Regions from separate parts of the Homo sapiens genome. Here region 1 is linked to region 2. Evidence: fine-mapped expression QTL. A gene starts in region 2. The other region holds a variant in brackets. All regions are shown on one strand. Distances are between the middles of the regions.

Region 1 (5,381 bases), 100 kb after region 2:
GTGTGGAGTGGTGTGGTATGTGGGGAGGAAGAAGTAGGTGCAGACTAGAAAGCCAAAACATGAAAGCATGCATAATTTTGTTTTGGACAACAGCCAAGCCCTGATTTTTGCCCCCTGTAGATTACGTTGAAATTTACCATTAAAAAAAGTGAAAGCGTTTGGGATAGAAACGACATGAAACAGATAAAAATCCATGTCTCATTTGTACTGTCAGAACAATGGTTTGGGAAGGAAATTGGCCTAAGTGTCTTCCAGCCAGAGATAGTCCTAGGTTGGTAGTGATTAAGATACAATGTTTTAATGGCTGTATGGATTAGAATATATTCTGAAGCCGCTTTTTAAATTAAACTTTTTTTATTTTGAGATAACTATAGATTCACTTGCAGTTGTAGCAGAAAATACAGAGAGATCCCATATTCCCTTTGCCCAGTTTCCCCAAATGGTAACATCTTGAAAATCTATAGTACAGTATCACAAACATGAGGGCCCTTTCTGGACCCTGATGTTTTCTTGTCTACACCAATAAAACTCTTATATTTTAGACTTTAGAACATGAAATTCTTGGGGGTCCTCTACAATAGTGGGGATTTTTCAACACTGGAAAAGAACTGTTTTAGAGCCACCTCTAAAGCCTGAAATATTTTTCAGTCTTTCAAGTAAGTAAATCAAAAAATACCAAAATACTGAGCAAAATAAAAGATCATAGCTATATGGTCATTTCTAACTGGTTTTGACCCGCTCTCTCAAGCAGGCTAGTTGCAGCTAATTTTTAAGATAAGCTCCAATTTCACTTACAACTTCAGGGCGTTAATAACCTTTTTCTCCTTTGCTCTGAGTTACAAGGTCAGAATGGCCCCTCATAAGTCTCTTTCATTTGTTTAGGGGAGGAACTCTAAAAGAACCATTACCCTTAAATCAAAATCACACACCACCACCACCCACTCCAGCCCCCAAACAGAAAATCCTTTATGTCAGTGATTCCCAACCTTGGCTTCAAACCAGAGTCTCTTGGGGAGTATATAAAATCCTAATGCCCAGGCCTTCCCCCAAACCACTTACATAAGGATACCTCAGAGCGGGACCCAGGTATGAGTATTTTTTACAGCTCACCGGGTGATTTTAGTGTATAGCCAAAGTGGAGTATGTGGTATATGTGGTTGTGAACATTGTAGCTGAATGAACTTTTGTATCTGAAAGAACTTCTCTTTGCACCAGCTTTTAGTCAAATGGTTATAGACCACTGAGTTTGATTGGACATTCTTTCTTCCACTTTCTCCTTCTTCTCCTTCTCTTCCTCCTTCTATTCATCTTCCCCCTACTCCTACACTCCTACCATCTCCAAAAACTCAATCTTCATTATCACCATGAGTAAACTGCCTCTCCTCCTTGGCCTCAGTTTCTCTGTCTGTAAAACAAAAGACTTCAACAAGATTAGGTTCTGGGGGACTGACTGGTCTACAATAGGGCCTGTGATCAAAATTCTTGAGGATTTTGTTTTTTCATCATGATCATTTTCCTACCATTATTATATGTCCCAGGTCTGAGACGTTGGTGCTAAAGAATGGCTTTTCATTTTGTGTTCACCATCATGAGTCAGAGAACTTCTCGTACTTGCAGCTTATCCTGGGTCAACAACCTTCCCTCTCTAATTCTATCCCAGTCCAACTGCTTCTTTTTAGGATCAGTGGGACACCAACCAGCCAAACTGTCCTCTATGTGTTCCTTTGGCAAAACTTTGCCAAACTTCAAAAAGGACAGAGCAACCTATAATGGCCTTTGTGGAATGTGAGTGATTATGGCAGAAAAGGACATATGAGCCATTGTGGGAATGAGAAATATTTGAACTGAGAATCCTATCCATGTGCATGAAAACAAACTGATGCAAATTTTTATTTGTGTGAATTTTGATAGCAATGCACCAACATAGGCTCTTCTTAGATAGAATAACATTGTCTTTCAAAAGGCTAAAAAAGGTCCTCTTACTTCAGCTCCTGTTTACTCTCCCTTTCCCCTACCAGTGGCCCCTTCCTGCCAAGAGGGCAATAATACTTCCCAAAGTGAAATTTGCAACATGCCTGTCTGTGGCCCATAACTTTAAACAGTGTTTTATGGGATATGGTCAGGGGACCCCATAACTATCTTCCCAAGGTTCCTCACTATTTCTGTCACTGAATATAAAGACCTTCCTTTTCAATTGCCTGTGAAAGAGTTTTTTAATGGGTTCCCCCTCCTTCACCCCTAACAATTGCCTATAAAATACAATTAATCTTACTTGGCTTTAAGCCTTAAGGTTCCATTCTTCATTCATTTCATCTTCTTGTACCCCCAGCCTACTTTAGCTCCTGGGAGAGGGGTGGGTAGCACAATAGTCTGGTCATCACGTGTGTTGAACCCTTGCTGAAAGATTACTTGTATGACAAGACTCTAAGCTTTTCTTAGGTACCAGAGTTTTGTTCACTCAACAAGTATTTGATGAACACCTTCTAGATGCCTGACACTAAAATCTAGGCACTGGAGATATAGCAGTGAACAAAAAGTCCTTGATTTCGTAGAGCTTACATGCCAATACTGTCATGTACTATCAATTCTTCTACCTATAAAATACCTAGGGTATTTGTACTGCATTGTATGATCTTATGCCATTACCTGTCTTTAGAGTCTAAGTACATCTTATCAAGACTATACTCGAATCTCATCTTTTCCTCCTATCCAGTTCACCCTATGCATGATCAGGATTCAATGCTTTGAAACAGTTCTGATTACATTATTTCTCTAACTTTAAAAAAAAAAATCCCTCAAAGCCTTCTATGCCCTCACCTCTATTGCTTACCAAATAAAGTCTTCACCCCTTAGCCTGTC[A/G]TTTAAAGTCTTCCATGATCTGGCTTCAACCCACTTTTGGAATGTTATTCTGCAACTGTTCCCTTTTATGGACTCGATGTTCTCTTCTTCACCTTCTCAACTTGTAAACCTCTGCCTGGACTATTCCACTTAACTTCTGCCTGTAAAAAAGTCTACCCATCCTTCGTGGCCCAGGTCACAAGCCCTCCCCAACTAGAAGCTCTCTCTTTCTCCTTCTGATTTGCACAGGACTGCTTACTTCTTCTGCAGCCTCTATTCACATTCTGCCTTGCGTGCAGACTACTGTCTTAACTCTTAAACTGAAATGTGAGAGTCTTGGCAGCAGGAAGGACGCTTTAGCCTTTTTGGCTCTTTTCTCCCTGAGAAGTTTGCCTGTAAATCTAGTCCTATCTTTTAGAAGAAGAGAGATAAACCTTGGCAAGTTGTCATTAAAAAAAAATTTTAATGAAAAAAATGTCAGCTGCTTGTACATGACCACATCCCTATTTCTATTGGTGTAGGTAAGCATGCAGCTGAAATCAGAGCTCACCACTATAAATCAAAATTATTGAATGACTTCTAGTATATAACTTAATCTCTGTGATCTCATTGGTGGCTTTTGGACTAAATTTGTTCTTGTTATTTTACAGAGACATTCTTACCACCGCTCTCACTATGATCCTCCACCAAGCCGACAGGCTGGAGGTCTGTCCCGCTTTCCTGGGGCCAGAAGTCACCGGGGAGCTCTTATGGATTCCCAGCAAGCATCAGGAACCATTGTGCAAATTGTCATCAATAACAAACACAAGCATGGACAAGGTAAGGGGCATCCTTCTTTTGTATACTTCCACAACAAGGCTTCAGCAGCCCTGGTCTTTGCAGGGCTGGAGCTGGGAAAGGACCCTTTCTCCCAGGAATAGCCCATATTCACTTGTGGCTCACTTAGCATCAAGTCTGTGGGTATAGTCAGGTGACTCCAGGAGACTCTTTGGACTTCCTTAAATGCAGCCAAAAGAGCATAGTCCGGTCCCTTTTGTAAACAGCCTCTTGTATTTTCTCAATTATCCCTGGGGATTGTAGGTCATTTGGGAAAATTTCTTGGGTCTTTAACAGAATGAGTGATTGTCTGTGTTTTAGTAGGGGACCCAACATTCAAAGGTACTCAGTGCCAAACATCACTGAAGCTCTTATCTATACCTTAGAAATAGCAATTCTCACACCTCAATGCACCCCAGATTACCCTGGGGCTCTCGTTAAAGATACATATTCCTAGCCCCACACTCAGATTCTGGTTAAATGTGTAGCATATGAGACTATCCTTAGAAACGAGTAATCCAGGTGCAGTGGCTCATGCCTCACAGCACTTTGGGAGGTCGAGGCAGGAGGATCACTCGAGGCCAGGGGTTCAAACCAGGCTGGGCAACATAATAAGACTCTACAAAAAAAAATTTAATGAAAAAATATTAGCCAAGTATGGTAGTGAGTGCCTGTAGTCCTAGCTACTTGGGAGGCTAAGACAGGAGGATCACTTGAGCCCAGGAGTTCAGGGTTACAGTGAGCTATGATTGTGCCATTACACTCCATCCTGGGGGACAAAGTAAGACCCTATCTCTAAATTAAAAATTTTAAAAAGGAAAAAGAGTAATCCAGTGAGAAATCCCAAAACCACCTGGCTGAGCACCAGGAAGACTGATCAGGTTAAGACTGACATGCTGTCCACTTAGTTGATCAACTGGCTACAGCAGGCACCCATAGACTTCCATAGCTTCCAATGTCTTCTTACACAGCATTTTCTGGCCTCCACCCGCCCCCTGCCCCCACCCCCACACACACCAGTAGCAGGAGTCAGGGAGGAGAAACTCAATCAAACAATTGACTGCTTCTTACTTTTTTAGGCCTCCTGTCAACCAGCTCGTTGGAGCAAGGGCTCAGCTGTTTCCTTTTATGAAACCACAAACATGTTTTGTTTCGTTTAAAGGGAAAACAAATCAAAAGCAGTTTTCTGAATGGGTTAAAAGTAATAAATTATTAAACCAAATGATTGAATAACATGGGTGAAAAACAATCCGTTACAAAGAACTCCTACCATAAATCTCAACAAAGCTAGTCAAGCCAAAGCTAGTTGATCACATCTGTTACTAGTTAGATGTATATTTCAGATTACAGATAAAAAAATTAAATTGCTTTTGAAATTTGCAGGCTTAAAAAAACATTCGAAATAAAACCATTAATGGAAAATGGTGATGTAGTAGAAGAATTGGAAATACTTACTATCGATCTGTGTTTGATTTGTATTTTATTATTTTTAAGTTCCAAGGATTTCTGATAAAAGCTTATGAAATCAGGAAGAAAGGTAAAGATAGCTTGATTTTCAATTCTAAATTGCCTCCAATAGATTCCATTTGCTGTGAAAGTATTTCAAAGCCTTTTAAAAGTGTAGGGAAATGGATTTTGAAAATCCTAAATCCCATAATTTCCACAAGGTCTCTTTAATTTCAGGGCAGAGGCTCATCCCTTGATTTTCTCCATGTCCTACAAAAACC
Region 2 (5,381 bases):
TAGCCAAATAGATGAACTTTTAAATCCCAGTGAGTCTATTTATTTTAAATGCTAGAATTTATGTTTGTCTCAGACTATCCCTTGAAACTCATTTTCCAGAATACTCTGTAAGCATGTTGGAAGTAATGATGGGAGTTGGGTAATGCACGCACAAGAGAAATTGAACAACCAGTCCTTGCCCTTGAAGAACTCACAATCTAGTAAGACAAAACATCACTGCATTAAACGGCATGAGAACAGTTATAAGGCAACAAATCAGCAAGTTCAAACCGATATACAACAGCACAAATTGAATGCATGTGGCAGTGTATGGCTACCCAGGCAGCAGGACGGAGCTAGACATTTTGGGCCCTGAAGGCAACATTACAGAAAGGGCCCCCTTTCCTTTGTTAACAGTGAAATAAACATCACCAGCAATGCAGGGGCTAGCTGGATACTATTAACACTTCTGAAAAAGCAAAAGGAGGTAACGTTCAGGGACAATTATTCTTGTTTTAATTTTTCTTTGTTTTCTGTTCCTGATAAGTGGTTTGTTTGTTTGTTTGTTTGTTTTTTTGACAAGCCACAGTTTCTCTGAACATCAATTTCCTCATCTACAGACTGGAGATAACAACCAGAGAGTAGTGGGTTGAAAGTCAGGGAATCTGGATTGGAATCTCAAATTTGTCATTTACTAGCTGTGTGACCTTAGATACATCATCCTCTTCCCCCAATTCAGTTTCCTCTTCTGTGAAATGATGAAGTTAAGCTGAATGGTTCAGAAGTTCCCCACCAACTCTAACACTTGAGACCTCAGGTAGTTCGGTTGGTTTTGAGGGTTTAAAAAGTAATGTTGATGTATGTGAAAACACTCCGTAAGCCATAAAGTACTATACAGATGTTAGGAATATAGATATTTATCTAGTTCATCTAGAAAAAAGCTCTGCGGTTCTTCTCCAAATTTAGGGGCTTAAAATTTTGTCTGTCGAGGCAGCACTTTCCTGGACCCTAGAAGTTTCTGACAATTCTTTGCAACTATCACTTGTTGAATAAACACAAATTTGGAGTAGGCAGGCCCACCAAGGCATCAGCAGTGCTACTGTGATTTCCAGGTTGAGCTCTTGGCCCAACTTAGAAGCTTAGGGACTCATTTAAAAAAAAAATGGTGGGTATAGTGTGTGGCACCAAGTTTTCTTCAAGACACTTAACAGTTAGAACAGGCCCTTTCCATGAGGCTTGGGAGCCCAGTTTGTAAGAGAAAGTGGATTTCTAATCCCTGACCCTACACACACCCATCTCCACCCCGCCTTTAAGGACACCAAACCAAAGCTTTGTCACTCTGTTAGCCACAGTGTGGATATGGGAAACGCCGTGAAATGATAAGCAGCATGCTAGGGCGTGATTTGCGAGGAGGGTTCATTCTGTGTCCAGGGCACCAGCTCAGTACCAGACCAGGTGCACACCTCGGAAAGGCCTTGGTGCCGGAGGAGAGCGGGTGTGGGCTTCCAGGCAGGGGAGTCAGAGGGTAGTCGGTATCTTCAGGGCGTGCGCGAGTGGTGGGGAGCTCCTAGGTGCATCCAGTGCAGAGGGGGAGGAGGGACCGGAGGAGCTGTGCGGTCCCTTTAAGACCCCAACGCTCGCCTAGCCAAAGGAGTGGGGGCTGCAGTGGGGGCGCTGTGTGATGGGAAAGTAGCCGGCTGAGTCTCACACTTTCTCCCGATTTTTAAACTTTCGGGCCGGGGGAGCAGAAATAAAGCCATTGTGCCGGGGTGGAGAAAGTGTGCGTGCTTGCAGCGGCTGCGTGCTTGCGGACTTCCCGCCAGCGCCGAGCGGCCGGCTTCTCGGGCCAAGTGGGGAGCGAGCGGGAGGGCGGGCAGGTGGCCCCGGGCCGCCGCGCCCGCGCCTTGGCTCTGCCCCCGGGAGCCGAGCAAGCCGCTGCTCCCTCGTGGTGTGAGGGCGGTGATGTTTTTCCTCCCACCCACTTTTGAGTTCCCCCTCCCCCCTCGCGCGCACTCTAGCTCTCGCCACAACCTGCCAGCCCCAGACCTCGGACGAGAGCGCCCCGGGGAGCTCGGAGCGCGTGCACGCGTGGCAGACGGAGAAGGCCAGTGCCCAGGTTAGTGAGCAGTGCCCGGCGCCCGCTTCCCTCACCTCCTTTTCCAGCCTTTGCACAGGTGGGTTGCCTTCTCTTGGCCGGAGCCGTCCCTGGAAGTTTCCCCAGGGTGCCCCAAATTCCCCTGCCACCCCAACCTGTTCTGTGCTCCAGCAGTTAGCAACCTGGATGGAGGTGGGGCCCAAGGCTTCTGACCAAAGCAAGTTGGGGGTCTCTGAATTCGAACTCACAGCTCGTCCCTCCCCACTCGGCCTGCATTTCTTTATGCTCTGGCGCTTTGAGAGGTCACTTAGGTACTCCACCCTGAGCTACCCAAGGGACTCTGCAGTCCCCTTAATCACTGCCTGTATTCCTGAGCCTGTTTTCTCATTTTGCTGATGAATACATGGTAAAGTTAATGTAGCAGGGTAGATGGGCGAAAGGCTCCCTATCCTATCCTCTGGCCATCTGCCTCATTTTTTGTCCCTGACTACGGGGGTCAGAATTTGAGACACTAGGCTCTGGAAGCAACGTGGTATATTGCCAGAACATAGGGCCCGGAAAGCCTGCTTTCCAGTCCCTCCCAGCCCTGCCACTAAAGTTATTTGAGTTCTCTGGGTCCCCCCAGTGCCCATTTTGAAGGTGGAGTTGTGTGGAATGAAATGAAATGATAGAAAGGTGTTTTGCAAGCCAAATGCGAGGCATTGTTTGTCAGTCATAAGCAGCAATGAAAGCATTTCCTCCAACAAGAGATACCCTGGGTTAAAACTGCCATTTTCAGTGGCAACACACCACCAGTTAACTGAACTTTTCTTGCTGGGTGGTAGAGTGGGGAGAGGATTTCAGCTGATGGACAAGGGCCTGGGACTCCAGTGTCTTTCTTATTGTTTGTCGGAAAGAAAATTGCTACCCTAGGGGCTGTCCCACAGATGATAGTCAATGTGAGATTACAAGGTCAGTCAAGCCTCTCAGGAGGATTAAAGAGACACTGTGGGGCGTGAAGAACTGGCTGACATGTGTTCATCCCTTAGCCTTCCTGTGGGGATGTCTCTTTGCTTCTGTTCTACCCAGGAGACCTGTTCTGAAAGTGGGCTCCTGACACTTGATGGCCCAGATTGCCTTGCAGTCACAGCTGGGCAAGGAGCAGTTGGTCCCTTTGCTTAACGCAGATGAACAATGTGAATGCTTGTTTCATGGAAGCACCTTAATAAATACCTTTCTTTTGGTACTTGATACATTTCTCTTTCTCTTGTAAAACACAGGAACTCTCCCATCCCACCTCCACTACCTGTGTTAGTTGCAGGGTTTTGTTTTTTTGTTGTTGTTGTTGCTTTCTTGTTGGGTCCTGGATCCCCTGAAGCATGTCAATGGCTACATGTCTAAGTAACCTGTAAAAGAGCCAGTGCAAGTTCAATGGCACAACAGCCTGTGTGAAGCAGACAGAGAGTTAATGCAGAAATAACTCCAGTTAACTGGGTCAAAGTATAATTTGAAAAATTAAGGACAGTTTGGCTCTTTGCAAGAATAAGAGTCGGCTAAGTTCGCTGAGCAATGCTTGCTAGTGTTTACTGCTGCAGTCCCAACACATGTTTTGAACCACCCCCTTCCCTAAAAGAAAAAGCTGAAGAGATAAAGAGAAATTGAACAGTGAGGAGATCTGGGGAGGGAACTCTTCTTGGTTCATATTTCTGCACAGAATACAAAGGCAGGACTTCAGGATCTTGTAAATCAAAAGTGAATATTTATAAAGCGATTCATTTTCTGATGTTCTCCATCACAGCCTGGGAGGCCACACAGATGACAGGAACGCCAAAGGAGATTAATTGCTCTCTAGTTACCAACTTTTTTATTTGCTCATAATATTAGTTGGGACCTAAGAAAGGCAAAAAAATCTATGAGCTGTTTTCTTGCCAACTTGAGTTATGAAGCAATGCTACAGTTCACCGAATCGCCCAACCATTATACAAGAAAAGCAGCCCTGTTGATTCTCGCATGGGGAGACCCTAAAACCATGGTTTCAGAAACACCCGTTGAAATCCATATATGAATGTGATAAATTGGATTTCAGTGGTTAAAAATCTTTCTCTTTTGGAGGCTTGGGGAATAAACTTATTAGAATAGGCTCAGGAAGAACCTCACTGAGGTGGGTAGCTGTGTTAAATTGTTAATGAAAATGATTTGTTTCGAATAAACGTGGTAGCCCTCAAGGGACAGTAACATTCTGAGTGATTGTAAGTGGGCCACAAACTCACAGAGGGGACCAAGACATCAGAACTCAGGTCTTTAGATGGGTAGGAACATGTCCTGAGAGAATTTGGTTCTTTAAGGAGCAGGGAGGAGGTAAAGAAGGAAGGCAGACGGTGCTGCAAATCTTGTTTGATAGCACAGATTACTCTATCATCAGTTCTTCCTTGGTTATGCATTCATAATTGAAACAGTGGATTTTGAATGACCCAGGCAACTTCATAGCATTTAAGTAGGAGCTGTAGCATCTACTTCAGAGCCCAAAGATATTCAACTCTCCAAAATGATCGTTTTGCATTCCTTCAAGTTCTTTATGTGCAATATTTAGGTTGGACTTTCTGGAAAGATCAATGAGTTCATTTCCCATTCAGATTGAATCTGGTGTTTTTAGAACATTTCAATATTTTCAGATCACCCATTGGAGGAATTTTGCAAACTCTAACATCTGTGGAAATGATCCGTGACTAGATGTGAGCTACAGCAAACTTTCTGTGTTCCAAGGTTCAAAAGGTTTAAGATTTCTACCCCTTATACTGGGAATGCCAATCTCATGTTTTGAAGAACTGTAGTTGTTTTAATGGTCTTTTGCATGGTGGTGCAAGGTGAACAAATTATCTATTTAATTTGCCCAATTTCCCCTAAAAATGGCCCATTTAAAATTTCCATTTTACAATGGACTTCTTGGGGGAGGAATATGTTGGAACCATTTTAAGCAGTAAAACTTTTCAGGTGTTTAATTGCATCCATTTGCTAATTACATCTATCTTTTGCAATATTAGTTGCCAAACCAAAGATCCTTGTAGATCTCATAGAGGACACAGGAGAAACTGATCAATTTGTACTTCATTCCAAAAGGATTAAAAGTAGTCTTGAAGCTAAGATTAGTTAACTTTCATTTCAGAAATTGCTTGGTCTCATGCTTGTTACTTTTACCTTGTTTGCTAAAATAACCGTTTTTGCAAGCTAAAGTTTCCCTTTTCTCCCAAAAAAATCTCTTGAGAAATCAACTTTAATTCCCTTAGAAAGGAAGATTTCAAAATTTATTTTCATTTTCCTATAACTTGCC

Which allele goes with the higher level. Alleles are on the strand shown, and positions count from the first base shown. SD is a standard deviation of normalised expression in the study named.
For the expression in sigmoid colon of the gene that starts at base 2,022 in region 2, G is the high allele of the variant in region 1 and A is the other (small effect, 0.29 SD a copy in GTEx).

What was found. PIP is the estimated chance that this variant, and not a neighbour inherited with it, causes the effect.
Region 1: its variant is fine-mapped to the expression of CHRDL1 in sigmoid colon (GTEx, PIP 0.94).

Annotation. Positions count from the first base shown.
Region 1 is chrX:110,692,439-110,697,819 of GRCh38, reverse strand. It overlaps CHRDL1 (chordin like 1), which reads left to right. Exons shown (of 12, transcript NM_001143981.2): 8 at 3,489-3,657. Among named protein-coding and RNA genes, the nearest start is that of CHRDL1, 100 kb to the left of the region's middle. The variant A/G (reference allele first, on the strand shown) is at 2,860.
Region 2 is chrX:110,792,458-110,797,838 of GRCh38, reverse strand. It overlaps CHRDL1 (chordin like 1), which reads left to right and starts at 2,022. Exons shown (of 12, transcript NM_001143981.2): 1 at 2,022-2,095.